4 separate regions of the Homo sapiens genome follow, and all the other regions are linked to region 1. Evidence: fine-mapped expression QTL. A gene starts in region 1. Each other region holds a variant in brackets. All regions are shown on one strand. Distances are from middle to middle.

What was found. PIP is the estimated chance that this variant, and not a neighbour inherited with it, causes the effect. A credible set is the group of variants that fine-mapping cannot tell apart.
Region 2: its variant is the best candidate, but not a certain one, in a credible set for the expression of ANKRD10 in monocytes after R848 (Quach 2016, PIP 0.73).
Region 3: its variant is the best candidate, but not a certain one, in a credible set for the expression of ANKRD10 in fibroblasts (GTEx, PIP 0.86).
Region 4: its variant is the best candidate, but not a certain one, in a credible set for the expression of ANKRD10 in monocytes after LPS (Quach 2016, PIP 0.64).

Annotation. Positions count from the first base shown.
Region 1 is chr13:110,910,260-110,918,300 of GRCh38, reverse strand. It overlaps ANKRD10 (ankyrin repeat domain 10), which reads left to right and starts at 3,232. Exons shown (of 6, transcript NM_017664.4): 1 at 3,232-3,576; 2 at 7,531-7,683. The coding sequence starts at 3,367. RefSeq lists silencers at 2,391-2,550, 2,681-3,340, 3,611-3,980 and enhancers at 1,918-2,592, 4,091-4,220, 3,944-4,620.
Region 2 is chr13:110,953,220-110,961,260 of GRCh38, reverse strand. It overlaps LOC105370364 (a long non-coding RNA gene), which reads left to right. Exons shown (of 3, transcript XR_931732.3): 2 at 4,010-4,081. Among named protein-coding and RNA genes, the nearest start is that of LINC00431, 8.8 kb to the left of the region's middle. RefSeq lists a cis regulatory region at 3,432-3,995 and enhancers at 3,075-4,274, 4,540-5,341. The variant T/C (reference allele first, on the strand shown) is at 3,551.
Region 3 is chr13:110,885,368-110,893,408 of GRCh38, reverse strand. It overlaps ANKRD10 (ankyrin repeat domain 10), which reads left to right. Exons shown (of 6, transcript NM_017664.4): 4 at 146-381. Among named protein-coding and RNA genes, the nearest start is that of PRECSIT, 19 kb to the right of the region's middle. The variant GAAGT/T (reference allele first, on the strand shown) is at 3,898.
Region 4 is chr13:110,962,079-110,970,119 of GRCh38, reverse strand. LINC00431 (long intergenic non-protein coding RNA 431) reads right to left here and starts at 4,093. Exons shown (of 2, transcript NR_126378.1): 1 at 4,001-4,093. All of the region lies in intron 1 of LOC105370364 (a long non-coding RNA gene), which reads left to right. RefSeq lists an enhancer at 3,942-5,141. The variant G/T (reference allele first, on the strand shown) is at 5,960.

The DNA.
Region 1 (8,041 bases):
TCTCCAACCCCACGTCCCTCAGGGCGCACTGCTCCTGGTGTAATAACGACACTCAAGAGATGCCCATCAATGTCTGTCACACGTATGGACACTGAATCACTGTGCCATTCACACAACTGAGCCCTACCCCACTTCCACAATTTCTCATACAATGCAATCCTTTTTTGAAAAAAAAAAAAATTCCAGTCTAAAGGCAATCTTAATATGTTAAGTTTTGAGTTTTCCTGTTTTCTTTCATGGATTTGGATTGTATCTTCAAATGCCTAAGTTGGCTTGTGTATGGTTGCTTCATCAGATGAAAAAGATGTTATGAATCTACTCTTCTTCTCTTTGGAGCTTTTAAAAAATGAGAGTCTCAAAGGAAATCTGAGATTGGTAATGATTGTTACAGGAAAGGGGTCCCAATCCAGACCACAGGAGAGGCAGGGTTCTTGGATCTCACTCAAGAAAGAATTGAGGGTGAGGCCACAGAGTAAAGTGAAAGCAAGTTTATTAGGAAAGTAAAGGAATAAAACAATGGCTACTCCTTAGGCAGAGCAGCCCCGAGGGCTGCTGGTTGCCCATTTTTATGGTTATTTCTTGATTATATGCTAAACAAGGGGTGGATTATTCATGTCTACCATTTTTAGACCACATAGGGTAACTTCCTGATGTTGCCATGGCATTTATAAACTGTCATGGCGCTGGTGGGAGTGTAGCAGTGAGGATGACCAGAGGTCACTCTCGTCACCATCTTGGTTTTGGTGGGTTTTAGCTGGCTTCTTTACTGCAACCTGTTTATCAGCAAGGTCTTCATGACCTGTATCTTGTGCTGACCTCCTATCTCATCCTGTGACTTAGAATGCCTTAACTATCTGGGAATGCAGCCCAATAGGTCTCAGCCTCATCTTACCCAGCCCCATTTAAGATGGAGTAGTTCTAGTTGGAATGCATCTGACAATTATCAGAGTTGAGCAAAATCTGGGTGACCAACCAATTAGATCACTGGCATTGGGAATAGTCAGTAGACACCATCCTATCCACAATCCTCCTGCCACAGTTACAGGATCTGTCTTGGGGATCCATCACCACGTATATATGTCAGTCTACTCCTGTACAGCTAAATAAATATGTATATAGTCTAAATAATCCTTTAAAAAACCCAGTCATCTGAAGTGAGGAAAGACGTACACGAAGTACCCTATCACTATAACCTATTTTATCTTCCTAGCCCTTAATACTCTATGCAAAATAAATTCCAAAGTTAAAAAAAATCTAACAGTGGGTTGGAACCTAGGTCTGGATATTATTCTAAGCTCTGCCACAGGCATGCAGTTTGCCCTTGGACAAATTCCTTGACTTACCACCATCTCTGTTTCACCATTCCCAGAATGCAGCCTAGCAAGTAATCCCTCCCTTTCATTACATGGAGGACAAGATACACTCACGTCCTTTCGCAAAATGGGACACCTCTCTCCTAAGAAAGATGGAAATCAGGGGGATATATTTTAAAGAGATTAGATTAAAATCAACATGGCATGTGAGAAGAAAAATGATTACGTTCTAGAGTAAACAAAACCTGAAATGAGTTTATAGTCTATTCTCACCCTTTTGGTCCAAACAAAAAAGTATTGCTTGATTATTCTTTCCTGCTTCACTAACAGATTACAAACTCCCTGGGAGAAGATAGATTCTATGTGTCATATTTTCCATTCATTAGCAATTGCTCACTGAATTGAAATATTTGCTACTTCCCCACTATAGAGTGTTTCTCAATGTGTTTCATTCAGCATTGTACTCAACAAATGTTTGCTGTATGAAGACATGTCTGTGTTGAGTGTTTACACCACTAGTTAACAACTTCCCTTTGTTAAATCTTAGGTTTCTATTTTTTCGTTTTATTAACCAATGCTGCAATATGCTTTCTCGTGCATCAGTACTTCCCTAGACATCTAATTGCCTTGTTCAATTTGTGACGTAGAATTTTGCAAAAAGGAAGTTTACACAGCGAAAAACTATATATACAAATGAAATAAAATACATGATTTAAAAAGACCGCATATTTAGAAGCAAAGGAAATATTCATAAACATTGTGGTTATTCCTCAATAGTGAAATTACTGATGCTTTCATAATCAGAATAAAATTACATATGTAATAAAGTCCGTGATACTGTCATTCAAAATAGGGGATTTGGTACTCCCTTACATTTATACAGTTCTCAACAAAAAGCCTTTTATTGTTTGCTCTGTCTGGTCTTCTCGCTTATCTCTTAAACTTGCAAACGTATAGTCCTAGCCCACCGCACTCGGTTCCGAAGAAGGCGTCCCTCGGACAAAACCGAGGAATCTGTCCTGCTCTGTAAGGAACTAGGGCTTGCTGATTCCCAGATTTTAACGAGAATCCCTGCTCCCCGTAGGCGCTCCATAAATTTTTACTGGACAACTTCACCGCGCGCTACTGGGCCTCCGGGAGACCCGTGACTCCCACCCGCTCTGGGCGCGGGCCCGCAGAGCCTCAACCCGCGCCCCCGGCAGCCGGGATTCCCCGCCCGGACCGGCTCCCAGGCTGGAAACATCATGGTCCGCACCCGGGGCGCAGCCGAGACCCACCGCGCCGGAGGCCCCGGGACCCGCTCAGACCGCTGCTTGGCCACTCTACGCCCCTGAGCCCCCCACACAGCCAGCCCCGTGACCTCCGAGCCCCGTGACCTCCGAGCCCCGTGACCTCCAAGCCCCGGAAGCCGCTGTAGGCAGCGGCCCAGCCAGGCCCCGCCCCCTCCACCGGAGCTCCACGCGTCAATTCCAGCCAGGCCCCGCCCCCGGCCGCCCCAGGCGTGGACCCAAGCCAGGCCCCGCCCTCTGCCTGGCTACTCCAGGCGCCCACCGCCCCAGGCGTCCTCTAGCCCAAGCCCAATGCCCGGCTGCTCCAGACGTCGACAGCCCCATGCCCCGCCTCCTAATCGGCTGCTGCTGGCGTCCTCTGGTCCAGGCTCCGCTCCCTACCCGGCTGCTCCAGGCATCCTCTAGGCTAGACCCCGCCACCTACCGGCCGCTCCAGGCGTCCGCAGCTCCAAGCCCCGCCCTCCGCCCGGCTGCTCCAGGCGGCCTCCGGCTCAAGCCCCGCCCCCTGCCCGGCGGCTCCAGAGGTCCGCGGCTCCAGGCCCCGACCCCTGCCCGGCTGCACAAGGCGTCCTCTGGGCCAGGCCCCGCCCCCAGCCCGGCCGCTCCAGGCCCCGCCCCGCCCCCTCTGTGCGCGCTCCGCTCGGCAGCCTGTGGGACGCGACCGCGGCGCTAGTCTCGTTCCTTTGTGCTGCGGCGGCGGCTTCTCGAGTCCTCCCCGACGCGTCCTCTAGGCCAGCGAGCCCCGCGCTCTCCGGTGACGGACCATGTCGGCGGCGGGAGCGGGCGCGGGCGTAGAGGCGGGCTTCTCCAGCGAGGAGCTGCTCTCGCTCCGTTTCCCGCTGCACCGCGCCTGCCGCGACGGGGACCTGGCCACGCTCTGCTCGCTGCTGCAGCAGACACCCCACGCCCACCTGGCCTCTGAGGACTCCTTCTATGGCTGGACGCCCGTGCACTGGGCCGCGCATTTCGGCAAGGTGGGTGCGAACGCTTTAAGGCGCCATTTTCCCCGGCTGTCCAGTGGGAGTCGGGGAAAGCGGGTCTGAGGTGCGGGGGACGTGGGGCGTGCCGGGATCGCGGGGCGGAAGCGGGATCGACGGCGCCTGTGCCCCGAGGGGCCTAGGGCGCCTGTGCGGCAGCGCTCGCGGCCCGGAGTCGCGGCGGGGCAGCCGGGGGGCGCGGGGCGGAAGCGAGGTCGGTGGCGCCTGCGTCCGGAGGGGCCTAGGGCGCATGTGCGGCGGCGCGCGTAGCAAGTTTCTAACAAGGCGGGCTCCAAGGGTCCCGGCGCCTGTTGGCCGGATCCTGTGCGAGCGCGCGCGCGCGCGGATGGTGCGGGGCCCTCCAGGCCGGGCCGGAGGCGCGAGCGATTTCGCAGAGCCGGGTATTAGGCCGCGAAGTCGCCCAGGCGGCTTCCGGGGAGCCGAGCTGGGGTCAGAGGCGCGCGGGGAATGCCCGGGCGCGGTCGACCTTCTGGTTCCGCACAGCCTCGCCAGTAGCCGAGGGCCGCGCTGCGGACGAGCTCAGCCGAGGAGCAAGCGCCCCGGCGGGACTGGAAGGCCCCGGCAGCTGTGTGGGATGGAGGCCGGCTCTCCAGCTTCTGGGTTTGCTTTAAGGCTTGTAGCTGGCCCCGCTTCAGCAAAATTAGTGACGGCTGTGTTTATCTTGGATCTAAATTACTGCAGAAGTGGTTAAATTAAGCAGAATTCTCTTCCCGTGGAGGCTTTACGTTCCCCTCTTTTTTCTTAAACTGAAAATTCTGGGGGAACACAGTGCTGCTTTAAGGTTTTAAAAGGTTGGATAGCTACCGTTTCCTCATCTGTGAAGTCGTTGGGGTACTTGCTCTCAGAAATCTTAAATAAGATTTCACCGTGCATTTCAGAAGTGACTGGTTTTAATTAATATTTCTTAATTCACTGAAATTCAGGGATGTGTATAGTGTTTTTCTCGTAAGTGATGAGATGGGGTTAAATGGTTTTGCAGAAATATGTGAGAGGTAATGTGAAATAAGTTACTTTAAGAAGGCCTGGCCCTGGTAATGTCGTTACCAGCTGATGAAGTTGCGGTTTACCTTGCTGCCCCTGGTGCTACATTCACAAAGCAGCTGTGTCTTTTGGAAAGCAGTTTCTGATTCTTTTAAAGTGGAAAAGTCACTTTTCTTTCAATAAAAGAAATGAAAAGGAGTTTTGACGATCGGGGTGGGACAAGCAAGTTAATCAGTCCTCAAGGGCTGTTAGGTTCCTGTGGCACTGTCTCTGAAGTTGTGCAACCGTAGTACCTGCTGGAGAAAACAGGTGCCCAGGGGAAATGAGTTTCTTAACAAACAAAAGTAATAAAGCCTCCTCCCTGCGCTTCTGCGTGCAGCCTTAAATAGATTTCCCGAGGCAGTCAGTAATCTGAGGATTTCCTCCCTCCAGAGTGTCTCTTGCTGTGGTTTATTTTTACACTAAACTTTAGGATTCTGTCCTTTCTACCCTGGTTGAGAACGACACAATACTGGGTGATAGTCAGTGAACAACGATCTGTAGAATGCTTAAAGCCTCATTACAGATGGTCACTTAGAAAATTTAATCCAGTGGTGCCTCCACTTGTCTCTGGGGATTAAAATAGTTACTTTAAAATGGTAATTTTTAATGTGTATTTTATCACAGTTTTTTAAAAAACACCGACTGAAATCACTTTTCAAAAGTCTACTTCCATGGGACTTTGAGTAGTAGCTTTACCTTGGTCATCAAATGTTGTAACAAGAAGCAGTTACTTCATTGTTTCCAGCTGTCTGAATCATAGGGCTCTTTGGTCTTAGATACGGAAGGGGCCTTAGAAAGCCCCTGTCCAGTGTCCAAACATTCCCTTCTGAGAAGAAGCCGTTAGGACAGAAATCAGGCCAGGACTCAGGGCTACCGCTTGCGAAGTCCAGGCTTTCTCCCCAGCCCTGCTAACGGCTGCCCTCTTACACAGGTTTCAGGCTCGTGTTCTTAGAAATGTGCTAGTGGTGCACAAGATCCCCTAACCGTTGGTAAGACTCGTTTGTTGCCAGAGGACTAAACGAGTTGTTTAAAATCTCTGTTGTAGCTTTTATACCATATTGAACAGTATCTTTCCAGAATTCCAAATCCAAGTTTCTAAATTGAACCCAAGGGTAACAGGTTTAAAGCCAGCGAGCCCTGAATAGCTGATTTTTGGTACGCCAAGTGATTTTCATCCGTTTTATTTTTATTGGATTTGCAACCTGTTCATCTTATCGCTAATTAATACTTTCATTTTCACCCAGTGAATTAATAAAGGCAATAAATAGACATCAGCCTTTACTCCCAGGTCCAAGTTGGTTGAAGAGGGTGTTTTGAATCTGTGTACTCTTCATCTCACAGGAGTGTTTACTGAAAGCCTGAAAGTGCTAAGAGAAATGGAAAAAGAAACCTTGAGTTGAGATGGTAGTGTCAGGTGTTTTGTCTTCAGGTGAGGTCTCTCCTCTTGAAGAGAATTGCTTGCAGTCAGGCATAGCTTGTTCCCTAACTGCATTGTGATTGGAGTGAGGGAAAATGAGCAGTCCAGGATCAGAGAACGTGGGTTGAACAGTTGCTTGGCACATGGTAGGCACTTGGTAAATTTGTTGAATGCGCTAAATTATTTTAGCCAGAGGCTATCATGGTATTGGTGCTTGGCCACAAAGTCTTAACTTGCCATGTTAGTCACCCACTAGGTGCATTGCTCAGTTATGCTGTAGGCTTTTTTCCCCCATAGGGTTTTGAAAAGAGTAAAAAAATGTGGAGAATGGGGCCTCTATTGATTATTCAATGAGTATTCAGTGCTGGCTTGTGTAAAAGTGCACAGTTGTGCACACTATAGAAAATAGTCTTTGACTATGACGAGTTTACTATGGCTACACAAAGTTTGTGGGGTTTTTTGTTGTTGTTTTTTGTTTTTTTGAGACAGGGTCTTGCTCTGTTGCCCACGCTGGAGTGCAGCGGCGTGATCTCTGCTCACTGCAACCTCCACCTCCTAGGTTCAAGTGATTCTCCTGTCTCAGCCTTCTGAGTAGCTGGGATTCTAGGTATGCACTACCACACCCAGGTAATTTTTGTAATTTTGTATTTTTGAAACCCCAGTATGGGGTTTCGCCGTGTTGGCCAGGCTGGTCTTGAACCCCTGACCTCAGGTGATCCACCCGCCTTGGCCTCCCAAAGTGCTGGAATTACAGGCATGAGGCACTGCGCCTGGCATTACACAAAGTGGTGGTGGTGGTGTTGGTGTTTGAGATGGAGACTTGCTCTGTTGCCCAGGTTGGAGTGCAGTGGCGTGATCTCAGCCCTCTGCAACCTCCGCCTTCTGGGTTCAAGCAATTCTCCTGCCTCAGCCTCCCAAGTAGCTGGGATTACAGGTGCCCGCCACCACGCCCGGCTAATTTTTTTGTATTTTTAGTAGAGATGGGGTTTCACCATGTTGGCCAGGCTGGTTTCGAATTCCTGACCTCAAGTGATCCACCCGCCTTGGCCTCCCAAAGTGCTAGGATTACAGGCATGAGCCACTGCGCCCGGCCTACACAAAGTTTTTTAACCCACCAATCCCTTTAACGTTTTTGTTTAGAATAGTCTGTGCAACAAACAGTTTTGATAGAAGTCTTGGAACAGCGCAGTCCAATATTTTCTGATTTTGGCTTATTCAATTGTAGGGAAACAAATATTTAAATCTGTATAGTGTTAGTCGTCTTTTTGCATTTTTCTATTTCTATCTACCGTCTTTTTCATAAGGACAAGGGAATATGTTATCTTAAATGTCCTTTAAAATTTGCATGGCATTGGGAAAGAGTGACTTAATCTGTTAAAAAACTGGTAACAATGCCATTTGTCACCATTATAGAATTTCGATTATTCATGTAATATTGAATAGTGTACTGACATGTCTGCGTGTTTTCATTACCCCTCTTGTTTTCGAAGTTGGAGTGCTTAGTGCAGTTGGTGAGAGCGGGAGCCACACTCAACGTCTCCACCACACGGTACGCGCAGACGCCAGCCCACATTGCAGCCTTTGGGGGACATCCTCAGTGCCTGGTCTGGCTGATTCAAGCAGGAGCCAACATTAACAAACCGGTAAGAGTGCTGGTGATGGACTTGGTTTGCTTTTGCTTTTTCTTTTTGCAGTTATAATTATACACGGTATTGCTTTAAATCGAGGCCTTAATTAGAGTTTGATATCTTTACCTGAGGGCAGACTGGAATTTATGTTTCTTCAGTTGTTTGTGGAGGATAGTAGGCCCTTTCCATAGGAATGCTTTCTGTTCATAGAGTGCTTTCACCTGTTGTGTGATAAACTGATCCAGGGTGATGTGCCCAAGGTTATAGCTGGTAATTAAAGGAGCCTGGCCTTGAGCCCAGGTTTCCTGGCTTTCTACTCATAGCTGCCTTAGCCTCATTTCCACAGATAATTATGAAAACATTTTCATCCTGG
Region 2 (8,041 bases), 43 kb before region 1:
TGAAGTAATTTTTGATACCCCCAAAAGTCATAAATGTCAGATAACACAAAGTAAAATAGAATAGAGCCTTAGATTTTGAGAGGGACGTATCCATTCTTAATTCCTGGGGTTTTATGAGAAAAACAGAATTTTTCCAAAATGGGGTTTGTGGTGCCTCCTCTGTTTTTCCCAAGGAGTTCCAGCAGGTTAGAAATTGAATATCTGCTTTTAATTAAGCTGATTTTTAACCACAGAGCTCTTTATTTTTCTTTTTTTCTTTTTTTTCTTTTCTTTCTTTTTTTTTTTTTTTTTTTTTTTGATATGGCATATCGCTCTTGTTGCCCAGGGTGGAGTGCAATGACGTGATCTCAGCTTACCGCAACCTCTGCCTCCTGGGTTCAAGAATTCTCCTGCCTCAGCCTCCCGAGTAGCTGGGATTACAGGCATGCACCACCACACCTGGCTAATTTTGTACTTTTAGTAGAGACAGGGGCTTCACCATGTTGGTCAGGCTGGTCTTGAACTCCCGACCTCAGATGATCCGCCCGCCTCAGCCTCCCAAAGTGCTGGGATTACAGGCGTGAGCCACCACGCCCAACTGAGCTCAAAAAAAAAAAAAAAACCTTTTAAATTTCTTATTACCCAACTTTAGCCAGGCCAAACGGCCAGTATTTCTGGCTTTTGAACTTTACCAAAGGTAAACTCCCAGGAGCTTAGAGAAAGGAAAATTTAAAACCATTTGTGGAGGGGAAGAGAATTAACAAATGTTTACACAGATATTAAACCAGAAAGGACTTATTTTTTAAGACAGGAATTGAGCCCTGAACCTGGGCCGCCACTGTGAAGAGAGAAAGCCTTAGCTACTGACCTACATACAGCCTTGGGCAGTCTCCATTGCTCTTATCAGAAGGAGCCCAGAGCAGCAGATTTTGAGCTTGTGAAGGCTTTTAACTGCTTGAGATGATTTTTAGGGCTAACTTACATGAACTCCAAAATTCCTATTCTCCAGATGACAGAGACCAAGAGAAAGTACCGCCATATGGTTACAAGGTCAAGCTCCCAAGGACATGAAACAAGATGAGAGGAAAACTTTATTCAGTTTTTTTTTTTCCTCAGGGACCTGCAGCAAAGTTTGTTACTGACCAGTTTGCAAGGCCATTTTGAACAGCAGGCTTATGGGGTCCTAAGCCTGCATTCTATCCTAAGTTACCCCTCTTTATGACAGAACAATACAGAAAAATATGCAAAGCACACCAGATTTACTACAGCTTAAGACTAGCCTTACGAATCCCTTTTCCTATTAATCAAAACTTTATAGAAAGAGATAAACTGATTTTTACCATTCATTCAACGGGCACAGAGAGAGAGAATGGTTTGCACAGAGAGAACGAGAGAGGCCAGAAGTCTGACTGGTAAGAAATCCTTTCCCTTTTGCTGGCATGCCAGGCTGGTGGGTTCCCTTTCCCTGAATGGCCCTAGTGACCTGGCTCGCTGCTCCACAGCCCTGGGGACAAAGCCGCGACACAAAGGAAAATAATCTTTTTCTGTTCTGGCCAGAGCAAAATACATGACAAAACATGGACATTAGCCACTATGCTTAGCACTCAATATCAAACTGGCAAAGCTCAAGCTTGCCCCCGGTTGGGCCCCATCACTTTTTTGTTTTTTGTTTTTTGTTTTTTTTGAGACGGAGTCTCACTCTGTCGCCCAGACTGGAGTGCAGTGGTGTGATCTCGGCTCACTGCAAGCTCCGCCTCCCGGGTTCACGCCATTCTCCTGCCTCAGCCTCCAGAGTAGCTGGGACTACAGGCGCCCGCCATCACGCCCGGCTAATTTTTTTTTTTTTGTATTTTTAGTAGAGACGGGGTTTCAGGGCCCCATCACTTTTAATCCAACCCCCAACCGGGAGTTTCAACTTGTGGTCTCTGGGCAAGATGGTCGCCCTGAGTAATAGAAAAGATAAGAAAGGAAAAGGAAAGAGAGAGAAAGCAGTGCCTGTGGCAGGGTGGGGAAGGTGAAGAGCTCAAGGAGGCCAGAGAAAGACCCAGCCATTGTAGTGACACTGAAAAGTTCGGGCAGCCGCTTGTCAGTAGCAAAGGGATCTTTTCCAGCAGTCCCATCAGCTCTCAAGTTTCCCCCTTTAGGGAGCAAAAAGCCCCCCATGTCCCATGATTCTGTCACCCATAGCCATCAGCAAAGAGTGCAAGGCAGATTAATCCAAAGAGAATAGCAGTTAACATCCCTTAGTGCCAAACATGTTCTTAGCTGAGAGGGACCTTACTGAGAGGGGCCTCTAACCCCCTAAATCTTAGGAAGGACTCTAACCCTCCTAAGTTGGGCCTTGAACCCAAGTTCAGTCAAGCTTTCTTGCCTTTTATTAAGAGTTGCCTTTAACCCACTCTGTCTTAGGAGAGACTCTAACTCCCTTAAGTTGGGCCTCTAACCCAATCCCACCCTTCACCCGGGTAAATGCAAATGACTTACAAGGTCAGCCAATCAGTGTGCAGTCTATTTCCTTTGGGTTGGGGGTCTCTTTAGTATCATCTCTTCCATGGTTCACCGGAAAGATTTTACAAGAAAGTGGTCTCAATCCAGACCCCAAGGGAGGGTTCTTGGATCTCACGCAAGAAAGAATTCAAGGCAAATCCATAAGGTGAAAGCAAGTTTATTAGGAAAGTACAGGAATAAAAGAATGGCTATTCTATAGACAAAGTAGCCCCAAGGGCTGCTGGTTGCCCATTTTTATGGTTATTTATTGATGATATGCTGAAGAAGGGGTGGATGATTCATGCCTCCCCTTTTTAGACCATATAGGGTAACTTCCTGACATTGCCATGGCATTTATAAACTGTCATAGCGCTGGTTGGCATGTAGCAGTGAGGACGTCCAGAGGTCACACTTGTTGCCATCTTGGTTTGGGTGGGTTTTGGCCATCTTCTTTACTGCAACCTGTTTTATCGGCAAGGTTTTATGACCTGTATCTTGTGCTGACCTCCTGCCTCATCCTGTGACTTAGAATGTCTAACCTCCTGGGAATGCACTCCAGCAGGTCTCAGCCTTATTTTACCGAGCCCCTACTCAAGATGGAGTGGCTCTGGTTCAAACGCCTCTGACACAGGTGCATGCATTGCGGGTGCTGTCATGAAAGAGGTCAAAGTGTTGCTTTCACAAAAGGAGATGTGCCCTCTTACTTTGCTTACCTCAAAACAGCTGGGTAAGCCTAGACATCCTTGGGACCAGGATGTTGTCTCGGCCTCTCAAGGGACCAGGGACCAGGAGGGCAGGCTTAGCTCAGAGCTCCTGGGCAATTGTCCTCCATCCTCACAGCCACCCCGAGGATGAACATTTCCCCCCATTTTCCAGACAAGAAGCCCAAATCCCAAAGAACTTTCCCAGGGCCATCTCTCATGGCCTGCAGGAGGGACTGGAACTCAGGCAGGGCTCTGTCAGGCCTCTGAGCTGGAGCTAAGCCATTGTAACCCCTGTGACCTGCACGTATATATCCAGATGCCCAGCAGGAGCCAAGAAGCCTGGAGCAGCCAAGAAACCACAAAAGAAGTGAAACAGTCAG[T/C]TTCTGCCTTAACTGATTAACCAACCTTACGACATTCCAACATTATGACTTGTTCCTGCCCTACCCTAACTGATCAATCGACCCTGTGACATTCTTCTCCTGGACAATGGATCTCATGATCTCCCCACCATGCACCTTGTGACCCCCCTCTCCTGCTGACAACAGATAACTACCTTCAACTCTAACTTTCCACTGCCTACCCAAGTCCTATAAAGCTGCCTCTCTCCTATCTTCCTTCGCTGACTCTCTTTTCGGACTCAGCCCACTTGCACCCAAGTGAATAAACAGCCTTGTTGCTTACACAAAGCCTGTTTAGGTGGTCTTCTATATGGATACGCGTGACAGGCTCCTTCCTCTAGAGGGGGCTGGTGGGCACCCACAAAACGGTATCCATTTAAAGAGAAGCAAATGCAAATTCAATGAACATTGTTAAACTATAGGGCTTTTATTTCCCCCTAGGTTCAAGTTCTGGACTGCCGTCAAGTTAGTCAAGTTTTAAAAATATGGATGACGATATGACCACAGTATTTGGTAAGGAAGCCCCTCCTATCAACCTCTGGCCTGTACATGAAGGGGACTGGATGGTTGTCTGTGGCTTTTTCCCAGATAACCTGGTACCAACTGCAGACAGTGGAGGGAACTGATTGGTTTGGGGCTAGAATCATATACCAATGGCCCATAGCTTTACTGCTGACATCTAAGAGTCAAACTCTCAAGAAATTAAGGAAGACAGAATTTTAGACCATTACACCTAAAAAGTGCGTGGGAGCCTTGCTTCTCAAAGTGAGGTCCAAGGACCCTCAGCGTCTGCATCATCTGGTTTGGGGAGCTTGTTAGAAACGCCCAGCGGCAAGCCGGGCCCAGCCCTCCAGCACCAGCACCGCATTCAACCTGATGCCACCGATTCCTGTGCACCTGAGAGGCCCCATGGCTGAGCCGTCCCCTCCTCCACCGCCTCAGCCCTGCCAGCCCCCTGGAAAGATGGTGGAAACTACAGACCCCCTGGCCTCACCCCGGGGATGCAGGCCGTGCTGGTTTGGCTGAGCCTGGTGCCTCTGTGCTTCTCTAGGGCTCTGCAGGTGATGCTAAAGTACAGCCGGCTGAGAACTGCTGCCCTGGGCCAGGGCCGTCCAATAGAAACACAGCATGAGCCGAAGATGTGCTTTTCATTGTCTAGTGGCCACATTAAAAAGATGCAGATGAAACTCATTGCAATAACATTGTATTTCACGTGATGATTTCAACATGGGATCAGTGTCAAATTACTAGTGAGATGTTTCAGTCTTTCCATCACGCTGGCTCTCCACAGTTCCATGTGTCCTTTGCCTTCACGGCCATTTCCACGTAGACAGCCGCGCTCCAGGGTGTGAGCGCTTAGCCAGTGCCTGCACTTCTGCTCTGACCTCTCGTTTTACATGTGGGTAAACTGAGGCCCAGAATGCTGGGACTCAGAGCATGCAGTCCTGACCCCTGCTCACATCGATGCCCTTGGGAAACAGTCACCTCCCAGGACCTCTCTGCCAGCATTGCCTGTGGAGTGGGGTCGGGGTAGAGGATGGGGCCACCTTCCACCCGGCAGGGCCCGGGACTGCGGCTGTGAAGGCTGCACGGCCTCGAACAGGGGCTCCCGTGGGAACGCAGGGCCCCCAGGTGCTGGGCCCTTTCCAGGAGCTGTCGCTGTCAGAAGTCAGGCTTTGCTCCCTTTCCACATCTGGGTGGGAGAGGCCTGGGAAAAGCTCTGCCTGCCTGCGTGTTTGATGGGTTAGGTGGATGGATGAGTGAGCGCTCCAGTGAATGAATGGGTGTTCCCATTCTCGCTTCTGCCGCCCCGTCCACTTTCTGGGTACTCAAGCGAACTGCCCCAGGCAGGAGTTAGACTCCCCAAGGTCAAGGAATGGCTGTGACTGGACTCACTTTCCTGGTGAATCTGGCGGTTGCCAGATTCTGAGAGTTTTAGTCCTGAGACCAGCACCTGCTCCAGCCAGTGTCTCAGCCACCCCCAGAGAAACAGTGGCCTCAGAAAAGGATTCTGGAAGAGGAAAGAGTGGCTGGCATTTCTGATATTTTTCCTGGGTCCTGACCAACTAAACCTAGAAGGAAGCAGCAGCTCTTACCCCCATCCACACCCCCAGATTTCTTCTAGGTAGAAAGCTGAAAGCATTGACAGTGAGAATTCAAATCCCTGTGGAGGTCAGTGAAGCCCACCCAGGCAGGCCAGGCCGAGACTCTCTGTCCAGAGCTTGCTGTGGGAGGGCAGTCACCACCATCACGTGCAATCTCAAAGCCTCTGAGTCACCATCACATGCAATTTCAGAGCCTCTGAGTCAGGCAGGGGATGGGGCCTCACTAAGGCAAAGGAAGCCCAGGTCCCGTGCAGGCTGCAGCTGGGTGTGCTGGGGGTGGCTCATCAGACGGGCGGTGAGGGGTTGGTGAGGGAGCATGTGTGGCTTTCTCTGGTTGGCTCTGAGTTGGAAGCGAGGACAAAAGCCATAGGACCTGTCGGTGATGGATGCATTCCTGGCCCTCTGGGGCCGGCTGGTCCAGGGATTGCGTTGTGGCTGCCTGAGTCGTCGCTAGAGGAGGTCTGACTTCTGGCAAGTCTGACTGTGGAGCAGGCCAGCCCCCTGGACTGGCTGCTGCAGGTGTGCTTGGCTCTGTTTTGATGGTTGTGCTCGTCATTGTTTGTATTTCAGCCTCTCCTATCTCAAAAAATTCAACCATCAGCAGTTACACATGGTTTTAAAACAAAGAGCTTCCTAACCTTGTTCCACTTGCTGGCTTCATCTCTACCTAAAGCGTTTTTCTAGCCCTGACCAATCTCCCCGAGGGTAGGGAGGCCCGTGGAAGGGTCAAGGCAGCCTTTCGCCCTGGGCAGCTCACCACGGGGTGGCTCGGCCTCCTGCCTCTCTTTGGCCCCCAAAGCCCTGACTGCTCTCCGAGCAGGAACGCGCCTCCCCGCAGCTGGGCCTCCATCCGCCCATCTCAGGGAATCCCAGGGTGTCTGCAGCTTGAGGAGTTTGGGTCCCCAGGAGGCCACTCCCAGCTTCGGGCATGGAGTGGACTGGGTCACACTGGGACAGGTCAGGGACTGTGGGTACAGTTGTTAGAGATGGAGAGTTGCAGAGACAGCCCATCCGCCATGGACGGGGGTGATCCCCAGTAACAATGGGGCAACCGAAGCCAGAGTTGGCCAGGAAGTTCAGACAGTGCCCCAGGAGGGCTCACTTCTTAGGGCTGGTCAGCTGAATCCTGTCCTCTGCCTGCCCCAATCTGCCCTGGGGACAGGGCATTTGCCCTTGGTGGGTGCTCTGTTACTGCTGACCTGCTGTGCCTGCTCACAGCTATAGAATCCTGACTCCTGGACATGGCTGGCTGGAGTGGGACAGAGACCAGTGACTGAGGCTGGGCTGTCTTTGGCCCCCAGTACCTGGCAGTGTCTGGTTCAGATGAGTGCCCAGTAAATGCTTGCCATTCAAATGCATATCCACTCTTCTCCAAGACCCCATCTCACTGGACACCACGACTGTTTAGGAACTTGGAATTCCTAAGATTGGTGCTTCCGTCCAATCACTGGCCCCAGCGGACAGAGCCTGAGTGGCAGCGCCCAGCCCCTTGGCTGGGATCCTGGGGCGCCCGCGGCTAAGAGGCAGGTGGCACGCAGCTCTGGTCCGGCAGCTCCGCAATACGAGGCCATGTCCCTGAGGTTGTCCTGGCCTCTCTTCAAGCTCCTGCCTCATGATCAAGGATGGTGTCCACAGTGCCAGACGCCTCGTCCACTCCCAGGGCAGGAGGCGGGGGTGCAGGCCTGGACACTGGTTCCCCTTTTATCAGGAGGAGCAAATTCCTTGCAGAGCTGGTAGACTCCTCCTACCTTACAGGGCTGTAGCCCACCTGGCCACAGAGGGCCTCACTGGGGGCACACATTGCCAAAACCCAGCTCTGTGAGCGAGAAAGAGGGACAGCGCGGCTGCTGGGCGAGACACCAAGAGCCCAGGACAAAGCATTTTTCTCGGGCGTATTGGTGGCATCTTCATTTCCAGCCTCTTCCCCTTTACCTTTGAATTCCGCACGAGCTGGTCCTAGAGAGACCAGACACCCACTTTGCCTGGGGCTGAGGAGCTCCTCTTTGAGGGACTTTTTGGGCTAAACCCAGAGGGCCCCAGCAAACCAGGACCCACTGCTCAGCCCAGCACTGCAGTCTGGCCTGGTGACTGTGCTGCAGAGACAGCGGTGACTCTCGGTTGCCACAACACCTGGCCATGGCCCAGGATCCGTGCTGAGCGCCTTCTGCATACACTGCTTTATTGGACCCTCAGAAAAGCCCACAGGCAAATACATACCCCCGTTTTACAGACAGGAAACCCAAGCTCAGAGCCGTGAGGATGCTTGTCCAAGATCACATTCTGGTGGGAGCAGAGCCTGTGTGTTTTTTCTGGGTCTCTCAGACACAAAGCTCAGGGCTCTCATGGTAAAAGCTCCCTAGGAGGACCC
Region 3 (8,041 bases), 25 kb after region 1:
ATTGATTAACTACTTCTTTAATGAAGATTTGCTATGAATTTGTTTACTCTTTCATACCACCTTCAGATAGCTAGTCAGTTCAGCAGGAGCAGAGACCAGGTTAGCACGCGGATGGGGTGTAATTCAGTGTTTTTGTGTTGTACAGCCTGAGAAATGCCAGTGGCCTGACAGCAGCAGACATTGCACAAACCCAGGGTTTCCAAGAGTGTGCCCAGTTTCTCTTGAACCTCCAGAATTGTCATCTGAACCATTTCTATAACAATGGCATCTTAAATGGGGGTCATCAGAATGTATTTCCTAATCATATTAGTGTGGGAACAAATCGAAAGAGATGCTTGGAAGACTCAGAAGACTTTGGAGTAAAGAAAGCTAGAACTGAAGGTGAGACCGCTTTGCGGGTGGGAAGAGCACACTTATTTTTCCTTTCTGTAATATGTTTTCTTTTTATGGCTGAGCGCACCTTCGAGATGAGACCTTCACTTCAGGTGGTAATGCGCCTGGTGGATTGTGCGGTGACGGTGGAGATTTCTCCTGTACTGCCACTGCGAAGATGGGACTTAACAAAAGGGAATGTGAGGGAAATACTGATGGCCCAAGTGTAAATGTCTATGTGGAACTTTTTGAGCACCCATGTTTACCTGCCATGAATTAGATTTTTTAATTTGTTGTATCTGTTTGAAATATATCTATTAAAGAAAATCTGCCACTGTGCCTGAATTTTTTTTTTTTTTTAATTTGCTTCTTGTAAATGTTCCTGGGCTTATAAAAATTGCTGATGGTCTGGCAGTAAAACATTTTCACATTCGGGAAGGTGAATGTTTTCTGTACTATTTCTGTACTATGATTTGACCTCAGTGGTCTCTGTACCTCACATGTGTGTTGACTTATCACAGCAAGATCTGGTGTATAATTTGATCTTGAGGATTTAAGTCCCTAAGGTAAGTTATTTTCGTTGTAAGTATTCTCCCACCATTTTTTTTTTTTTTTTTTTTGCTCTGTCACCCAGGCTGGAGTGCAATGCTGTGATCTCGGCTCACTGCAACCTCCGGCTCCCAAGTTAAAGCAATTCTCCTGTCTCAGCCTCCCAAGTAGCTGGGATTACAGGTGCATGCTATCACACTGGGCTAATTTGTATTTTTAGTAGAGAAGGGGCTTCACCATGTTGGCCAGGCTGGTCTTGAACTCCTGGCCTCCAGTAAGCCACCTGCCTCGGCCTCCCAAAGTGCTGGGATTACAGGCATGAGCCACTGTGCCTAGCCGTTTTTTGGGTTTTTTGTTTTTTGTTTTTAAGGTAGGTTTGAGTTTGCAAATAAGCAGTCAGCCAGTCACTCTTGAAGTTGAAAACATCTCCCTTTCCTATAGGAAAATCATCTATATCTATATATAAGATGTCTTAGGCCAGTTGTCATGGCTCATACCTGTAATCCCAGCACTTTGGGAGGCTGAGGCAGGAGGATTACTTGAGCTCAGGAGTTCGAGACCAGCCTGGGCAACATAGTGAGACCTTGTCTCTATTTAAAAAAAAAAAAAAAAAAAAGTCTTAATAAGAAGGTAAATGTGATAGCTTGGCAGGCATATTTAGTGAACTTAGGGGGAGAGGTGGGAGTGTGAAGTAATGAAGCAGATTATGAGCTCAGATTTGCTGAGTATAAGCACAAAGTTTTGCCCGTTGGTTTAAAAAAATCAACCGTGCAAGTTACAGCATAAGGAAAACTGAGTGACTATCAGTTAATCACTTAAAAATCTAGAGATTTTGGTTAAATTTCATGAACCAACATCATCTTTTCTACCTTATTTAATGAGTGTGTCCAAGTGAAACATTTTTTCCCTATAAAGTTGATAAAATGTCAGTATTATGTACTTCACAACTATATCTTGTCACCATAAAAATTCCTGTGATAAGACTTTTTATAGTAATGTATGAACTTAACAGTTTTATCAAATTCAAGATTTTTATGAGTTAAGCATTTCTGGAAAGATGCTAAAATCATAAGCATGACATGAAGATCTGCATAAAATTCAAAATGGTCTTTTTTAATGGTGATGTATTCAGCATTGTCATTTATTTGTACCATGTTTTAATATATTTTTTCTAATGTAGTTTCAACGCCTTTTTAAGAGCATCCACTTTTTAAAAAAATCCTTTGTCATTTCCTTTAATTAAAGCCTGGTTAGTATTGTAGAGTGGCCTCATGCCCTCATGCACGAATTGTACATGTCTGTCCCTGTATGTCACTGTATAGTCTAAATGTCCTTGAAAAATGATTTATGCTTCATTTTCTCTTATTGCTGATAAATCTTAAATTCTGTTTAGTATTTTTAAAAAGAGATCACTTAACATGCTAATTGGACTCAAAATGCACCTAGAAGAGTTCGTAAAACTAGTCTCAGAGTTTCTAAGGTCAGTTGAATTGGCCAATACCACATTGCTTAATTACCCTGAAAAGCATTTCTGAGGATTCCTTGTTTCCTAATCCTCGTTAACTACATAAATTTGGTTTAAAGAGTCCTGCTGACTTTGGGGGTTTTATTTTCTTCCTTTAGAAGGAGGATTTGTTTTGGTTGACCAGTGATTAGAAGTTCACATTTTGCACATTAAACTCACCATGCAGCCTTCCCAAACTATACATTCCTGGTCCCAAGCCCGAGGGTGCTAATTTAGACAAAAATATGGTTGGAGCCGGCACTTCTGCTTAAGTGTTGCAGGTAATACGTAGACCTAACAGGTTGAGCCACTGTTGCAGGTACACAGTACATGACTGATGTTTCTGTGATTATCACAGTTGAAATATTTCAGCCAAGATGCACATTACTTCAAAGCTGCTCATCCTTGGTTTTCCTAATTTGTATACTGACCATGACTTTACTAATTTCCTGGAACTTCTGATGGTTCTGTCTTTTATGTAGTTGACAGTCCTTAGATTTGCCACACTCGTCACAAGAGTGTGTTTATATTTTTTTGTGTCTGTGTGAGCATAGATGGGCATCTTTAGCTCACCTGCACTCCCACCACTCGTTTCCCTATGGGAAAAGGTGATTTTTTGCCCCCCTTTTACCATTACATACTGAGAGTGCTGATGTCGGGTATTGGGAGTCATTCTTGGTCATTAAAACAGGATTTTTTTTTCTGCCAATTACCTGAATGTTCTACATGAAATTGTTCTTGGTTTCAATAGATATATAATTATTTCCATATTAACTGACCAGTTTTTTAGTTTTGAATTAAAGATATGTTGCTTTAGTTTTCGTTGTAATTTCTGGCATCTTGTTTTGATTTTGTTTAAATGTGTGTTTTAAGTTTTGCTTAATCTGAATTATTTTATTAGGTTTTTGGTTCTCATGCCAGAGTAAAAGAAATGATAAATTCTTTTTTCCTCATTTAACACATGTATATAAAATACTTTGAGTAACTTCACATATAAAAATATTTAGAAGAGTTTAAGCTGGGTTTTTTGTTTTGTTTGGCTTTAAAAACAAAAAAAGTTACAGGTGCCAGGGATAATATCTTGGCTGCGTAACTTGTATCTTACCAATAAAACTTAGTGCGTTCTGTTTTCCTAGAATTTAAGAGTTACAAATATTGATGCTTTTAGTGTGGAATTTATATTTACAAAAGTAATTACTTCCAGAAAGTTTTCTGGCTAAGTCACCTCTTAAGGAGATCCCTGTAAAATTCACCCTTTAAAAAAGAAAAAGAAAAAGCCAAAACACTTTGGAATCCTGAGTCTGAATGTTAACCATTCTTCCCCACAAAAAGTAGTGTCTGCTTTTAGTAAACTACTTTCAAGTATTTTAAATTGGAGGAATTTTCTTTTGGAAGCTGTTGATGTAAAAGATCTTAAGTGAAGAAGAAAGACTTGGCCTTTTGTATTGCTTGAATATTAACTGTCTTGGAAG[GAAGT/T]TATGCTACAAGAAGTCATACTTTCATAAAATTATTTGCATCTGTGTCAAATGCAGTTTAGTCAGAACGTAAGACATAATAGGTGTGGACATGAACTCTGGAGTGTGAAATAAAATCCACAGTTACTTAAGCAGTCTGTTTTGATGGAAAGTATCTTGGGATAATACTTTCCTCAGTGTGGGATTTTGTTCATTTTAGATGGTGCAAGGAAGTATCAGTCTTTAATTTTTTTGTTGTTGTTTTTATCAATCATTTGCTCTGATGGTATGATGCATGGGCTTCAGGACTCCAGCTGCACCACTGTATAAAACTCAGTTCAGGTTTGCTAGCGTTCTTGGTTAATCTTCAGGAATAACCCAATACAATTATTTTTATATGTACTCCTTGGAAACTGTGGTCGTTTTTCAATGATCTTGGTTAGAAAAGAATGCCAGTCCCTTCCATGAGTGAAAACTTGATTTTGCTGATTGATAATTGTTTTGGATGGAGCTCTAGAGTCGTGGGGAAGAAGCAGGGGAACACAGTGAGTTTAAAAACTGACCCAATAACTTCAATTTCACAATTGGGACATTTGCCCCAGAAGTAGGCTGTGGTGACAGCAGATCTCAAGTGTCAAACTGACTTCACAGCTCGGTCTTAATCACATAGGCATATTACTGATCTTAGAATCTCATTCATACTGTGAAGGTATTGAATATAAAAACACCTTACAGAAAAAAGTATCTACAACATGATGATTTAAAGGTAAAATTACCGGTGGAAAGTTTTAACACTTTCCCAGAGTGGATTTAACCTGGATAAAGGATCTCTGCCTTTTGTCCTTAGCTGTTCGTGTTGAGCAGGGTTAAAGACTTGGTAAAGGAGGGCAGATATGACCAGCTGGTTTGTTAAATGATAGATGTTTATTGCTTGAAACTTGAGAGGAAATAAAATGCCTCCCAGGAGTAAATTTGTAATTTAGTTCCTTCTAGTTTAGTTACATATTATAGCACTTTAACTCCTGACGTCCTCACTGTTTTCAAATTTGCAGTATATTTGTTTATAAAAATGTGGCCAGGATGATAGAACACACCTACCTAATTGTGTTCAAATAAGGAGTGATTGTTTTTTCTTGATCCCTGAAGATGTGACGTCTTGAAATACAGTCTGAATTACACTTCCAGTCCAGACAGTGTCTGCGTTTTCCACTGTTAAAAGTCTCCATTTGAGCAAACCTCATGGGCCTGAGTTGTCCTCAGCACAGTTGTGGACACTCCAGTGGGAAGCAAAACGAAGACTGGCACACTTGATCACAAGCCGCTTTTGTATTATTTGAGCCAAACCCCCAGTCCCCCCCGGTCTTTCCAGAGCACTCAGTTCCCTTCTCTGTCCTTTGTCGCTGCTGCTTCCTGCTGCCTGGAGTCATCCCAACCCTCTGCACTGCTGGAATCTGGGCCCTGGCGGGTCCCGCGAAAGGTCACCTCATAATAGAAAAACAATTTGGTTTTAACAGGACCTTAAAAAGTTGAGTAAAATGTGCTCTACAGCAGAACAAAGAATAGTTCCAGGTAATGGCTGGTGGGAAACCAGGAAGGCAGAGTGTCTTTCCTTGCTGCCTTAATGAGAGGACATTGAGGCTTCCCCAGTGGAAGCAGCAGCAGGATGCACTCAGTTCAGTGGAAAGGCCACAGGCGGGAGGGGTCCTGGGCCATTTGGCCACCTCTCAAGGGTTATGGGTCAACACCTGGGACCCTTCCACACAGCACCTAGAGGCACAGTAAAAGGTAGATGACTAATCTAGGTCAGGATCTCAAGCTTTGCCTAAGTTCATTGGGTGAAACTACTTGGCAGTTTCTGACTTGTAAAATGTCTCCTGATTTAGTCTTGGGGAATATAACCAGTATGGCTTGGGTCTTGGGAGTAATGTCCTGCTGGCTGATTGGAGCACTTCATATCCCAAAGTATGACTTTATAGAGTGCTTTTTGGTTTTTTATGTAAAGATTAAAGTTGTGATCAGGCATTTTTCCTAAGCCTTACATGTATCTGCAGGCATGCCTGGCAATTACAGTCCTGTTTTCCTGTGTGTCAGTATGAGTGGTGCACTGGAGTGTCTTCACTCCACCTGGTCAGCACTCCCATAAGCCTCTGTAGTGGCACGACCTTGGTGTCCAATTGCATTACTTCTGTAATGCAGCAGACCTTCCCGGACTTGAAACTAAGACTTTTTTCATGGTTTCAAGCTGCTTGATCCTGAATAGCTCATACAGTTACAGAGTTACTGGGAACTGGCTTTAGGGGTTTTGTGCAACCCCCAAATTTCAGATGAAAATACAAATGCAGACCGTTTAGTTGCCCTGGGCATCAGCCCCAAGTGGAGCATCTCTGTGTGTCCCCCAGGGTCAGGAATGTGGGTTTCTCAGCCAGAGGCGTGCTCTACTGGCTCTAGTTCTCACTTAGGAGGGCAGGCAGTGACCACACCTGGCTTGTGGCTGTATCTCTGAGCAGGGAGGCTGGAGGTTTTGAGCTAGTCCTAGATAGGTTTCCATCCTGAACGTTGTGTCTCAGGTGTACTAGAAGCCTGTCTTCCCAACAGACACCTGACACCTGCTTTTACAGTCAGCAGGTGAAGACCCTTTGAAAAAAGTGGTCATACTAACATTTTCAGAAGCATTCAATCATTGTGTAACTTTAAGAATCAATATTAAGATAGGAAAGTATAGTGCTTCCTTTCCCAAACTGAGTAAACTGATGACCTTGGAAGACATGTTTTTCTGAAATGTCTGTACAGGCCACCCTTCTCAAATGCAAGGTGTAATTAAATGATTCCTTCAGCAATGGCAACAGGTGTGGGGGAAAATGCCACAGGTGGTAGGGTCTTACAGGTCCAAATCCAATGTTCTTAAAATTTTGAGAGGCCAGTTTTAATTTCATGGCTTACAACATAATTAAAAGAGATAATTGCGGGCTTAATATCTCTACCAGCCAATTAACTTATGTATAGCTACTAGGAATGAAGAAGGTGGCACTCGTGAAACAGCATTATCCAAGGCTCTGTGACAGCTGGTTGTGGGAACTACACCGTATAGAGAGGCTGTATCTATGGAGATGGAATGAAATTCTAAGGTTCTGTTGGAATGATTCCCACAATAGAATCTTGATTGGTAAAATATGGAAGCCTTTCATTCTTATCCTGCTTTATTAGAGAAACCATCTGCATTAACAAAAGATGCATCTACTCAATGGAGCAGTTTCTGAGAGGTCCCTGGTCACTGTGAGCCTTATAGTTACAGGATTAATTGTTGCTGGGAGACTAGTGTGTTTCCCGCTGCCTCTTCCCTGGGCTGCCCTTAACGCGGCTCTTCCGGCCCCTAGTGGCACCTCTGCCTTCAGGGTGCATGTCCCTGCACCTCGCATGGCCAGGCCTGCCTGGATGGTTGTGACTCCTCAGGTTGTATTACAGGCTATGCCAGCTACTGATCATTTGTTTTTGTTTACCTTGTGTTTTTGTTTCTCCTGGCTAGTGGGTGGGCTTCATCTGCTGATGTGAGTACTATTCTAGGTACTGGGCCTAGTGAAGGAGAAGACAAACACCCCAGCTTTCGTGAAGCTCTTCTCTGTTGCGGTTTTCTAACCTGCTTTTCAGAGGTGTGAAATTGCAGGTAACCCCTAGTTGCCACTTTATCCGGGGAACATTGGCATCTGAACGCCAATTGAGTGTGTAGGTATTTTAAGCTGTCTGCATTGTATTCCCATCAAAGTCCACTCTTTTGTACAAACCGTGTTCGTGTGTGGCTTTGCAGGATTGCAGCCTGTGGGAGGAGCAAACGTTGACCCGCTCTTGGCTGCAGGTTCTCTGTGTCTGCGTGCCATGAAGGCTCCTGGAGGTTGAGACGACTTTGGCACACTTGGGGGATCTGCTCTTCCACCACCCCCCTCTCCCATTCTTTTTTCTTTTTCTTTCTTTCTTTTTTTCTTTTTTTTTAGATGGAGTCTCGCTCTGTCACCAGGCTGGAGGGCAGTGGCGCAATCTCTGTTCAATGCAACCTCCGCCTCCTGGGTTCTAGTGATTCTCCTGCCTCAGCCTCCCCAGTAGCTGGGACTACAGGCACTCGCCACCACGCCTGGCTAATGTTTGTATTTTTAGTAGTATTTATTCAGCA
Region 4 (8,041 bases), 52 kb before region 1:
CTCGTCCAGTCCAAATGTTCCCAAATGTATGGGCCACTCCAAAGGCATACCTGGAATCTGTATAGATGGTTCCTTCCTGGTTCTGTTACTTTAAGGATTGGCTGAGTGCAAACAGCTCACACGTTTGAGCAGACCAACTGTTGGGCAATTTTCCTGATTCTATTTCTGTAAGAGTTTCTCCATCAATCACTGAATACCCATTTTGTCTTTTTTCCTCAATCACCCAGGAGGAACCATCTATGAATAAGTGCTGTCCAGTCCAGAAGGGGGTTTCTCCTATGTCTGGTCTAAAAAATCTAAACATGTGTGTTCCCTCCTTAGATTTGGATTCCCTGTTAGGAAACCTGCTGGATTGAGTGAATTATCAGTGGTCAATGTTAAATCATCCTTTTCTAACAGAATGTCCTCATACTTTAAGATTCTTGAGTCAGTAAGCCATCTCCGTGCTCTCTGGTTTAAGATAGTTCTAACTCGGTGAGGCATGCTTACTGTCAATTTTCCTCCAAAGGTTAACTTTCTGCTTTCCTCGACTAGTATTGCTGTAACCATGACAGACTGGATGCATTGAGGCCATCCACAAGTGACTGGGTCTAAGACCTTTGATAGGAAGGCTACAGGCTGCTGGTGGCCTCCGTGTTCTTGAGTCAGCCTCCTAAAGCTACCCCACTGTCCACATTAACAAAAAGGTGGAATGGCTTTTCTAGGGAGGGTAAGGCTAAAGCAGGGGTAGCTATGAGCCTTTTCTTCAGCTCCTCAACTTGATAAACTTCCTCAGAAGTCCACAGGAGATGGTTAGGCTTCTGCTGGGCAAGTTTTTCATTCTTGGTAGTTTGAGGCAAGGGTAGGGACATGATTCCCTCGATTCATTCAGGCCCTATTCTTCACTTGTCTGCACTTACCAAGTGGCCTAAATATTTAACTTCGGGCTCTACATACTGAAGCTTTCTTTTTGAGACTTGTAGCCCCTCAAACTGCAGATGGTTAAGAATATGTGTAGAGAAGTCAGTTACCTTCTCTGTATCTTCACCAGGTATAAGAATGTCATCCACGTACTGAAGAAGGCATATTTGTTCTGGGATGACAACTTTTTCTAGTACTTGTTCTAAAATTTGGCCAAAAAGATTAGGGGAATCTGTGAACCCTTGAGGCAAGACCATCCATTGATATTGTTGTTTCCGCCCTGAGTGGGGATCCTCCCATTCAAAATATATCAGCTGTCTTCAGCCAGGGGACATGCCCAAAAAGCATCCTTCAAATCTATTACAGTAAACCATTGATGATTATATGGAATCTTGCTAAGAATGGTGTAAGGACTGGGGACAATGGGGTGGGTAGTCTGGACTATTTGGTTGATAGCTCTAAGGTCCTGTACTAGCCGGTATGACCCGTCTGTTCTTGACTGGCAGTATTGGGGTGTTATATGGAGACATACGGGGCTTGAGAAACCTGTCCTTAATAAGGCCTTTGATTATAGGTTTCAACCCTATCCTACCTTCTAGGGGAATAGGGTATTGCTTCCTTCTTACTACTTCTCCCGGGGTTTTTAGCATGATGTGGATCAGAGGGACTTGGAGTTTCCCTCAGTTTCCTTCTTTGGGCAGACATTAGGATTAATATATTTTTCATCCGCATTGGTGGGTAGGTTTCATGAAGTGAGGAATCCTCTTGGGCTGACTTGTAGACCTATGCCCAACTTTAACATTAAATCCCTCCCCAGTAAATTAGTTCCTGCTTCAAGGATTAACAAGAACTGAATATGAGCTGAGTGATCCTCGTATCTAACTTCTGTGCTTTCTAAAATGTTTGCTCTAAACCCTTCCCCTTTTACCCTGGAGACTAAAAGTTCCTCTGAGGAGGAGACAACATTAGACGAGGGGAAACAAACAGAGGAGTGAGCAGCCCCTGAATCAACTAAAAAAGTGATAAGCTCATGTTTAGGTCCCACCTCCAAATTTATCAGGGGCTCCTGGTGGGACTCAAGATAAAAGAGACAGAGCCCCTGACTCCCTTATTCTTCCTTGAAAGTCATGAGTGGAAGGGCTTCTTTCTCCTTTCTTAGTTCAGGACATCCTCTCTTGAAGTGGCCTGTTCTTCCACATCTATAGCACTTATCTTGTCCTTCCTTCCTCTTAGTTCTGGGATTCTTTAACTTTGCTCCCCCATACTCTTTAGGGGGCCTGGTAAACTTGGACCTTGGTCCTCCAGATGGAGGCTGGGTCCTTTAAAATAGGGTTTAGACCCTTTATAGTTTCTGGCTCCCTGGAAACTCTGTCTAGAAGTACCTGGGTTTGGAGCCATCTGTTGGAAGGTGGAAAACATAAGTTTTGTCTTTTGTTTCTGTTTTTCTTCATCCCTTTTCACATATACTTTCTGAGCTTCCCTGAGGAGCTCACTTAGCAGACGGTCTTCCCAATTGTCTATCTTTTGCAACTTTTTTGAAGTGTCTGGCCAACTTTTAGTGACAAACTGGAATTTCAACATTCCTTGCCCAAAGGGATCATCCAAATTGAGGCCTGCATATTGCCTCATTTGCTCCCTCAGTCTGTCTAGGAATCTCATAGGCCCTTCATCCTTTTCCTGTTGTATAACAAATGCTTTAGAAAGATTTTGGGTTCAGGGTACTGATTCCCAAATTCCTTTTATTATCATCTCCCTTAGTTCCTGCATATTTTCCCAGTGACCTGCATCGTTATTGTCCCACTGGGGGTCTCGAGGGGCAGGGAATTTCTGGTCTGCGGTAGGAAAGTTTTCACCAGGAGGGTGCTCACATTCCTAAACTACCATAGCAGCCCTGTGAATCATACTCCTTTCTTCCCCTGAAAAGAGGATGCCCAAGATGGACATTAACTCCACCCAAGTGTATAACTGAGGTCCTAAGAATTGGTCAGTTTGGTCTGCCACTCCATAAGGGTCATCTAGTAGTGGTTTAAGCTCCTTTTTAAAATTCCAGACTTCTGAACTGGTTAAGGGAGCATTTACAAAGCCAATGGCCCTCCCCACCTCGTGGTACCTCTTTCAAAGGGAAGAGGGTCAGGGCTGACCTCTTAGGTACAGAGAGAAATGGGAAATTCTGAATATCTTTTTTACATTGTTCTACCTCACACTAGAGTCCTTTTGGAGAGGGATATTTAGGTTGGGAGGGAACAGGCTGGTGGGACAGTAATTCCCAAGAGTCAGGGTTATAAGGAGGAGGGACAACGTGAGTAGAGGGGAAATTTGGAAAGGGATCTGAGGCGGCAATGGCTGTCTGAGGGGAAAGACTGAGGACACTGAATGGGGGAAGATAGTCTAGGGGATCCCATGCACTGGAGTCTTTAGGCATGAGAGCTGGCTCCTCTGACTTTTAATTTTGATGTGCTAGATTGGGTTCTTCCCTATCTGTTTTTAAGGGAAAAAGAAGGGCAGGTCCTTCCCTCCAACAAAGGGCATAGCCTAGTTCTTCTTGGGACACTGGACTTTTATCATTAATGTATCAGATTAGAAGCTGACACATTACACCCTCATTTGATCCAAACCTTGGCCAGAAGATTGAGGGTCTGAGGATGGGTCCCTGAGTCCAAATAAAACAGCAATATTTTATCATTTGTTGCTTTTTCCTATGTTTAATCCTTTCATTATCCTTTCATTATCTTTCCAGTATTTTAGCATGAGACCTAGGGGGCTATCTGGGGGGATATCTTTGTTACCATCTTTATCCTTCTTGCTCCCTGTCTTGCTTGGGGTATTTCCCATCTTGATGGTTTTGGGGTAGAGTTCAAGGTTCAATTTCCCTTACTGGAAATTTCTCACCTTTTGGGGTGAGGCTCAATTCCCCCCACTGGAAATTTCTTGCCTTTCGGGGTGAGGTTCAATTTCCACCACTGGAACATACTTGCCTTTTCTATTACTGGAGGTTTGTGTGAGGTTCAGTCCCTGCCAATGGGGATGTCTCACCTCTTTTTAACCTCTAAGCCACCCTGACCAAGGAGTACTTCACCACCCCCTGCCACGGCTTTCTTACCTTGCTCCCAACCACCAAGGAAATACTTTACCGGCTCCCATGGTGTCTTTTCCTCGGTCCATGCACACACTTGTGTGGCCCTTATGGAGGATGCTTTAAGCTAGGTTGCTAGCCAGTTTCTTTCCATGTAGCTGAGAGCTCAGGTTATTCTTCACACTGGGTGGGTCTTGATTTCTCACCCCTGAGGCCGCCACAGTGGGGTGGGGTGCACCTCCTCACAAGAGAGAACCAGAGACCACCCCCGGAGGGGAATGTAATCCCGGATGAGCCCCCAAATTGTTATAAGTAAAGTTTCGGTGCCACAAAAGAAATAGCACTCGAATATAAAATTTTCTTTTTAATTCTCAGCAGGGCAAGGTACTTCTATAGAAGGGTATGCCCTTACAGATGGAGGACTGGTGAGTGCACACCTGGACAAAGGAGGGAAAGGGGTTATTTTTCCTTATGCACATGGTCCCTACTGCTTTGTCATTCCCCTATTGGCTAGGGTTAGACCGTACAGGCTAAACTAATTCTGATTGAGTAATTTAAAGAGAGTGACAGGGTGAGTTGTTTGGAGGGAAAAACGGTTATGAAATGAGTCAAGGTGGAGAATGAGTCAGGGTGGAGCAGGTAATCGGAATGAGTCAGGGTGGAAAATGAGTCAGGGTGGAGTAAGTAATCAGAATGAGTCAGGGTGGAGAATGAGTCAGGATGGAGTAGGTAATCAGAATGAGTCAAGGTGGAGAATGAGTCAGGGTGGAGTAGATAATCAGAAAAGGTTGCTTTACAAGGAAGTTAAGTTTAAAAGTAGAAGGCAAAGAATTGAACATACTGTCATATTAATTCTTTGAAGAGAAATTTATAACTCATATTTAACATCATGATTACACAGCATTCATCATTAAGATGAACATCATGGTTCATCTTAAACCGTGAGGCTGAAGTCAGAGGTGACACATGAAGGATATGGCAAAGCCACTCCACTTGACAATGAACTTCAAAAACCACACTGATGTTATAAAACCCAAATATTTTACTGCACATGCTTACTGGCTGACTTGCACAATACTTCCATTATAATTACGGGACAGACACAAAATGAAAAGAATATTTTTAACAAAGCACTTGCACGATGCAGCCGTACCCATTCTTAATGATCATTAATGTCTCATCCAAAGAGAACCATACTTTGTTTCATTTACTGAAGGTCAGCATACTGGGAAGCAATTGTCATCACATCTCAGACCTTTTTGCATATTTGTCCTCATTGTTCTGAGCCTTCATGTGCTCAGACTAGTTGATTGGTGTGTAGATTGTCTGTCATTAAAGCCATTTGGAAATCAGCTTTGTCACTGGTTTAGTGTTGGAACTTCAGATCCTAGAAGACACCACTGGAAAGCTCTGTGCACTAGGAAAGGGAAGGTGCATGGCCCTGCTGAGCCCAACCTCGGGGCTGGAGGAAGAGACTGACCTTGACCTTGACCTTGAGCCTAAGCAATGCCCCAGGACACTGAGACACCACACCTCCAATAAAGAAAAACTGTGAATGGCAGAAGGAAGGAACCATTGTTTGGGGGCTAACAAGGAGAAAGAAGTGCTCAGAATCACCATTCACTGTCGGAGTCACTCAGCAGGGTCAGCTGCTATCAGCCAGGCAGCTGAGGCTACAGGTCAGGAGGCCACAGGTCCTGTGAATAACCCACATTCCAGACATCAGCATTTCACCCACATGACTCCACCTCTTATCTGCAAATGGGGCCACCCTGAAATCACTTTGCTTACGAAGGAGGAGAAAGGGGGTGGCCCGTCTCTCTGAGTCCTGCCCCTCCTAAAACAGAGCCATGAAGCCAGGTCTTCATGATGCAGCCATAGCATTGCAAACTGTTTCCCATTTCCCCAGAACATGTTTCTAAGCTTCCAGGTCTTACCGGAAAGGCGTCCTAATCCAGACCCCACAAGAGAGTTCTTGGATCTCAT[G/T]CAAGAAAGAATTTGAGGCAAATCCGTAGAGTAAAGTGAAAGCAAGTTTATTAGGAAAATAAAGGAATAAACAAATGGCTATTCCATAGACAGGGCAGCCCCAAGGGCTCCTGGTTGCCCATTTTTATGGTTATTTCTTGATTATATACTAAACAAGGGGTGGAGGGGTGGATTATTCAAACCTCCCCTTTTTAGACCATATGTGGTAACTTTCTTATGTTGCCATGGCATTCGTGAACTGTCATGGTGCTGGTGGGAGTGTAGCAGTAAGGATGACCAGAGGTCACACTCGTCACCATCTTGGTTTTGGTGGGTTTTGGCCATCTTCTTTGCTACAACCTGTTTTATCAGTAATGTCCTTACAACCTGGATCTTGTGCTGACCTCCTATCTCATCCCGTGACTTAGAATTTCTAATCTACTGGGAATGCACTCCAGCAGGTCTCAGCCTTATTTTACCAAGCCCTTACTCAAGATGGAGTTACTCTGGTTCAAACACCTCTGACATTTCCCTCCCTCTCTTTTATAGGAGAACCCTTAATCCTAAGAGTTGTAGAGGGTCAAAGACCATCTTTTGTAATTTTTTTAGGCTGAACAGGGGCAATGATATTCCTAACTATTGAGTTTCTTGCATTCAGGGTAGAGAGGAGTTTAATTAGAAAGCATTGGTGTGGCAAGGGCCATTCATAACTTTTGAGTTCCAGCAAAAGGTGATATCTGGAAGATTAATAAGTGTTTAATTTAAGAGAACATTTGGTAAGCTTATTCTGCTTTTTACACAAAGAGTACAATGGCAATATGTTTTACAACAGTAAAGCAAAATAAGTAAAATTATCCCAAGTAAACTAAATTAGAAGGCATTTTATGAAATGGGCAATTGTTGAAACTGAGCTGATATGGGATTGCTAGCTGATTTTAATACATGCCCAAAATTAGAATATTGATTTAGACTTTTACATTACCCATACATCTTGTTTCTTCTGAGCAGCAGTCATAGATCACTGGTTGGTTCACAGGAATAAGAAAAGTTAGTCTAAATTGCAGGAAAAAAACTTAAAAACAACTGATGAGACTAGAATTTAATAACAGGTACACCATAGTTCTTGAAACATAATGTTTTTTCTTTCCCATCTCCCATTTTTACCAAAGACAAATTGTGGTATGACTGATTTGCTTTATTATACTTGGCCTGATTATTTGTATAAAGTGCAGCAAGAATAATTATTATTCACACAGGCTTTTAAAATTGGCTTTGATGGAATTTTGTTCCATAGAAGGAATCTCAGTTAAGACAGTTTTTTTAAAAGCAGAGTTCAGACATGGGTTTGTATCCTCAAATACCTATATGAGTTGGGTGAATTTTTTTCTTTTGAGGTTTTAAGATAACTTGGGGCTCCTGGGCCTGTCAGAAAGTGACATTTTTTACTTAACACAGGTCAGGAACCCTGTACAGGGACTATGTAGACAAGGTATGAGGCCAGTTTTACCAAGGGGATTTTTTTTCTTTTAAGACAAGAGTCTTGCTCGGTTGCCCAGGCTGGTGTGCAGTGGCAAAATCTTGGCTCACTGAAGCCTCCACCTCCCAGGTTCAAGTGATTCTCATGCCCCAGCCTCCCAAGTAGCCGAGATTACAGTCACATGCCACCACACCCAACTAATTTTTGTATTTTTAGTAGAGACAGGGTTTCACCATGTTGGCCAGGCTAGTCTTGAACTCTTGACCTCATGTGATTTGCCCACCTCAGCCTCCCAAAATGCTGGGACTACAGGCATGAGCCACTGTGCCCAGCCCCCAAAGGGTTTTCATTGGCTCTGTAAATTAAGCTTGATTCCTTAAAGGAAAGCACATCACTCCAGTGAAATCCTTGGTAAAATAACCAGTTTCTTTAATTGTGTCCTGTTGCAAAAGAAAGCAGATTTTTATTTCACTTATGCAAATAACTGTATTGCCATAAGAATACTTACAAATAGTTTCCAAATTCTGAAGAAATCAGGTAGAGAGAGGCAAATATGCTTCAACTTTTGTTCACAGGAGTAGACTTAATTGTTAAAAGCTGTAAATAGCTTAAAAGAAAAGTTTCCT